Linked DNA regions of Homo sapiens: region 1 is linked to region 2. A link means that fine-mapping ties the variant in region 2 to the expression of a gene that starts in the linked region. Tissue or cell type: whole blood. Region 2 holds a variant in brackets; the other region holds the start of a gene. All regions are shown on one strand. Distances are from middle to middle.

What was found. PIP is the estimated chance that this variant, and not a neighbour inherited with it, causes the effect.
Region 1: it holds the start of ARHGAP19, and the variant in region 2 is fine-mapped to the expression of ARHGAP19 in whole blood (TOPMed, PIP above 0.99).

The regions. Positions count from the first base shown.
Region 1 is chr10:97,291,544-97,294,228 of GRCh38, reverse strand. ARHGAP19 (Rho GTPase activating protein 19) reads left to right here and starts at 1,592. Exons shown (of 12, transcript NM_032900.6): 1 at 1,592-1,657. The coding sequence starts at 1,602. ARHGAP19-SLIT1 (ARHGAP19-SLIT1 readthrough (NMD candidate)) reads left to right here and starts at 1,556. Exons shown (of 15, transcript NR_037909.1): 1 at 1,556-1,657. RefSeq lists a silencer at 1,871-1,920 and enhancers at 1,265-2,021, 2,022-2,685.
Region 2 is chr10:97,212,972-97,215,656 of GRCh38, reverse strand. All of the region lies in intron 11 of ARHGAP19-SLIT1 (ARHGAP19-SLIT1 readthrough (NMD candidate)), which reads left to right. Among named protein-coding and RNA genes, the nearest start is that of SLIT1, 28 kb to the right of the region's middle. The variant G/A (reference allele first, on the strand shown) is at 1,313.

The DNA.
Region 1 (2,685 bases), 79 kb before region 2:
CCTCACATGAAATAAATAGTCACACAAATGACTATGTAATTGTGAGTTGTGATATGAACTGTGAAAGAATAGTACAGAGTTCTTTGTGAAAGTTTACTGAGGGAATTGATTTATACAATGGGGGTCATGGAAGATCTTTGAGCCAGTGACATTTAAGCTTCGACCTGAAAGCCAAAAAAGTGGAAAAATGGACGAGCCAGAAAAAGCAACATGTGCAAAAGCCCTAAGACAGTTCAGAAAGTGAAGCATGTGCAGTACAGTTTAGTAAAAAGGAGGCAGAGTGCAGGGAGAGCCCCAGGTGGCAGGATATCAGAAGGATCAATACAGAAATTCCCGAGAAAAGTCCAGCATAGGAAAACAATATGGAAAAACAAAAAACAACAATGCTCAAAATTTACAATGTTCTCACATATGTTGCCTCAGTTAATCCCTAGGAGAAGTGTGTGCCGCAGGGAGGACAAGGATAATTATGGTTATTCCTACCATTGAGGATTAAAGTTTAGTTTGGGACAAAGTCATGCAGCTTTTGGTTCCATGGTTCATATCACAAGGCAAACTCTGTGGGTTCTCTGGGAAGTTGGAAGGGAGTGAATGTATTGAAGCAGAAATGACCGACTCCAGCCTGGCCAACAGGGTGAAACCCCATCTCTACAAAAAGTACAAAAATTTGCCCTGTGTGTTGGTATGCTGCAATATTGTACTGTGCTCCAGCATGGGAGACAGAGGGAGACCTTATCTCAAAAAAAAAAAAAAAAGAAAGAAATAAAGGAAGAAAGAAATGACCTATGGCTAGGGCTATGCTGAGTATCTGAAGAAAGAAGGCTTTGAACTATACGTTTAAAAGCAAGTACTTCTAGGTTGCCACTCCCTGCCTGCACTTGAGGGATTTATCTCTGGGTCAAGACAGAGAACGAGTCTTGCATTAAATTACATTAAATTAAATGAATTAATTTATGGCTGGGTGCAGTGCCTCATGCCTGTAATCCCAGCACTTTGGGAGGCTGACATAGGAGGATTGCTTGAGCTCAGGGGTTCGAGACCAGCCTGGGCAACATGGTGAAACCCTGTCTCAACAGAAAAAAAAAATTAAAAAAATTGTAAAAAAAAATTATTTATTTTCAACTTTTATTTTAAATTTAGGGGGTACATGAGTTGGTTTGTTATCTGGGTATATTGTGTGATGCTGAGATATAGGGTACGGAGTCTTGCATTTTAGAAAGTGATGAGTCACTTTCAAAGTTGACAGTTCTATAATTCCCTGATTTACATATCAGGACAAAATTTGAGCATAGGCTGGTGATTTCTGACTTGAACCTAAAGGTCTGTGGAATCGGAAGGGTTCATCAAAATGAGAAACTACAACTCCCGGCAGGCCTCGGGGCTGGGTCTTCTTCCCCGCCCCTCCCTCTTTTTCCGCCAGGGCTGGGAACGACCAATGACGGTTAGTCATTTGAATAGACCAATAATATATTAAACGGTTCAGGTTGAGGAGGGGCGGTCGAGTCATCCAATCGCACGGAAGAGGTGAAAACATATTAGCCAATCCAAATATGTGGGGGCGGGACGTAAGGTGGGGCGGTGAAAGAAGTTTGCTGACGAAGATGGCGACTGAGGCACAGAGTGAAGGGGAGGTGCCAGCCCGCGAATCCGGCCGGAGGTGAGCTGAGTTTGGTCCAGTTTCCTGGGAAACGCGGCCTTGGGCTGGTAGTCCTGCCGCCTTTGCCTTGGGTCACGGAGGCGCACGGTTCGGGCTTTGTTTCTTTCTCCCACGGCGTTTCTCATCGTCGCGCCTGCGGGGGCTGAGGCGCGGGGGTCGGGCCTGGGCGCTGGACTCCAGCCAAACCCCCCGCTCGGTCCTGCCGGTGCCCGAGGGGGCTCCTCCCGCTGCGCTGGCTGCAGACGTCCAGCTGGGGGTGGCAGCGCTGATCGCTTTGGCGCCGAGACACCTCTTGATGGCGAGGAAACGGAAGTCCAGGGCTGGTTAGCGAATTCCTCACTGTTGCACACAGCGCTTCACATCTTCTCCGAGGCACTTTGTGCGTTCAGGTCCGAGCAAGGATTTGAGTGTCAATTAGAAACAGTGTTGAGTCCTTGGGCCAGTTTTTAAACCTCTCTCGACTTCAGTTTCTTCATCTGCAAAGGGACGTGAGGATGCCTATTTCCAAGTGTCAAGATTGAATAAGACAATCCATTTAAAGCTAGCACTGAGTTTAGCCGATAATGACAACTCTACGCAATAGATTTTCTTCTTCCTAGTAGAACAGCTAAGGAGCAGATGGGAGAGGGATCTGTAGTCCAGGACATCATGACTTTATTTCCACAGGATGTTCTTTCCTAAACAGCCACACCGAGATTTAGCGTTTTCAGGAGAGAATTTCGAGGTGGTGTTGCCTTAGCCTTGAGACCTAAGTTGTCTTAATTGATTACAATTTTGTTTTTGGTGTAATTCAATAGATTGAGTTTATTTACGTTGCCTCAGTGTAACTCAGTAAAATACTTCGGTTTGGCGTCTTTTGGTTCCATTTGTACCGAATAAGAGATTCCAAGAATCTTGGGAAACTAATAACTTTGTGACTCGGCTTCTTCCTGAGCCCAGATGAGCGTGGTTGAGTGTGTTATTTAAAATATCATACGGGGCCGGGCATGGTGGCTTACGCCTGTAATCCCAGCACTTTGGGAAGCCGA
Region 2 (2,685 bases):
TAATGCGTTCGTCTCTGGCCACAGGTGCATATTAAGCACTGGAAACGTGGCCCATCTGAACTGAGATGTGCTGTGCGAAATAACAGAATTCAAAGATGTAGGAAGAAAAAAGGAATATAAAAATATCTCGATAATTTTTTACACTGATGACATGTTGAAATGAGATTTTGAATATGTTGGGTTAATAAAATGTATCATTAAAATGAATTCTACCTGTTTCTTTTAACCTTTTTAATGTGGCTAACTAGAAAATATAAAATTACACATGTGGCCCATGTTATATAGTGATTGTCCCAGAACCTCTGGGCCTCTAATCCTATGCTGTCCTTTCTCCCCAACAACCTACTCCACCAGAACCTTGGCCACATCTTTTTTCCTTTAGTTAGTCCTTAGTCCACTCTGGGGAGGAGAAGCAGGGAGAGCTGGTCAGAGGACAGGACAAACACTAAAAATGTCACCCCACCCCCGTGAGCTACTGCCCTGGGCATACAGACCCACTAAGTCTTTCTGCTCAGGTTAGAGGCCTTGGGCCAGGGCCTTCTGCCTCTCTGATGAAGAGCCATGGGGATTTAATGGACATCTAATGACCCAGTGATCCAGGCTTTAATAAGTACTTTGATGTAACCAAAATTGGCCATTAATGAGAGGTCTTATATTGTAGCCCCTTCTTAAACACCCGCCGTATGTGCTTTGTGACATGACCTAGGAAGAGGAGAATGGAGAGGAGAGACATGGCCTTCTTTCTTGTCTCTGCTTCCCTCTTCCATGGGAGCATGAAAACCTACTCTTTCCACATGGGGAGGAATATAGAACCATCTGGTGTGGAGGAAAAGGGGATATATTTAGTCTGAAGCAAATCTTTAGCAGAGACATAGAATCAAAGACGGTCATTGCTATTTGGGACCTTAGAGACAATGGATCCCAATGGTTTCAGATAGGTTTATGCAGTGCCGCCAGGGTTACTGTGAGGAGGGGAAGGGGGTCAGAAGGACAGCACCTGATTCTCCGCATCCTCTTCAGCCAGGGAGCTCCCTTTTACCTGGTTTAGAGTAAGATTTTGTTTAAATAAGTGGCTTGAAAATCATTGAACTAGCCCACAAACCATGTGTTAGAGAAACAGTTTCAGAAAGATGGCGACTTAGGCCCAGTTGATGCATTAGTGAGGGGCAGTGTGGGGGACTTGAGTCTATCTCTTTTTAAATTAACTCTATTAAGCATATAGTTTGATACATTTTTTTTTTTGAGACTGAGTCTCACTCTGCCGCCCAAGCTGGAGTGTAGTGGCGCAATCTCGGCTCACTGCAGCCTCCTC[G/A]CCTCCTGGTTTCAAGTGATTCTCGTACCTCAGCCTCCCAAGTAGGTGGGATTACAGGCAAGCGCCACCATGCCCAGCTAATTTTTGCATTTTTAGTAGAGATGGGGATTTCACCATATTGGCAAGGCTGGTCTCGAACTCCTGACCTCTAGTGATCTGCCCGCCGTGGCCTCCCAAAGTGCTGGGATTACAGGTATGAACCATTGCGCCCGGCCAGTTCGATAAGTTTTGACAAACATATACGTCTCTGTAACCACCACCCCAATTAAGATGTACATTTCCGTCAGTCCAGAAAGTTCTCTCATGCCACTTTGCAGTCAGTTCCCCATGCCCCTGCCCCAGGCTGCCAGTGATTTCATTTCTGTCACTGGAGATGGCTTTTGTTATTAAACCCCTGCTAACTCACAGTTGGTGTGCTGACCATGCCTCCCACTCTGGCTGACCCTGTGTTTCCAGGTGTTCTGATGTGGACAAAGGAGGATGCTTGTGACATGTTTCTGGGAGCAATAGCAGGAATAAGAAGACTGGTTCTGGCTTATGGGAATCTGAGTTCCTTGAAGGCCAGAGCTGTTCTTTATATTCTGTTTCCACACTACCTAGTGCAATGCCTGGCACATACGAGGCCTTTGGTGAGGGTGGGAAAGTAAGGTGGAAGGGTGGGTGGGCGGAGGCCCGGAAAGATGTGTACGGGAGGTCCAGGGACACTTCCTGGAGCTGTTACTTAGAGACGAGTTACATAAGGACGGGGGCTTGGGGCGCTGTGGGGCAGAGGTGGATGTTTTGAGGGCCCAGAGTTCATTCATTCCGTGTGTATTTATTTAGCTGGTGATGTTTCACAGGGAGTCGTCAGGGATGTCAGAGTCTTGGGTGGGGGGTTGATGGAAGGGAGGTGCTGGATGGTCCAGGAAGGTAGGGCTGTCAAGAGTCGGGGCTGCAGATGAGAGGAGGAGGGAAATGGAAGCCCTGAGGGGTAGACAGGAAAGGGTAGGATAGAGTGTGTTGTGAGAGAGTCAGGCTACACTGCAGGCATCGTTTCCCCAAAATGACTTCTAGACAGTACTTTGGATAAACAGGTGTTTTGTTTTTTTTTTTTTTTTTTTTTAAAGACAGAGTCTTGCTCTATCCCCCAGGCTGGAGTGCAGTGGCACGATCTTGGCTCACTGCAACCTCTGCCTCCTGGGTTCAAGTGATTCTCATGCCTCAGCCTCCCAAGTAGCTGAGATTATAGGCACAACTTGTTGCCCAGGCTGGAGTGCAATGGCACGATCTTGGCTCACCGCAACTTCTGCCTCCTGGGTTCAAGCGATTCTCCTGCCTCAGCTCCCGAGTAGCTGGGATTACAGGCATGTGCCACTACGCCAGGCTAATTTTGT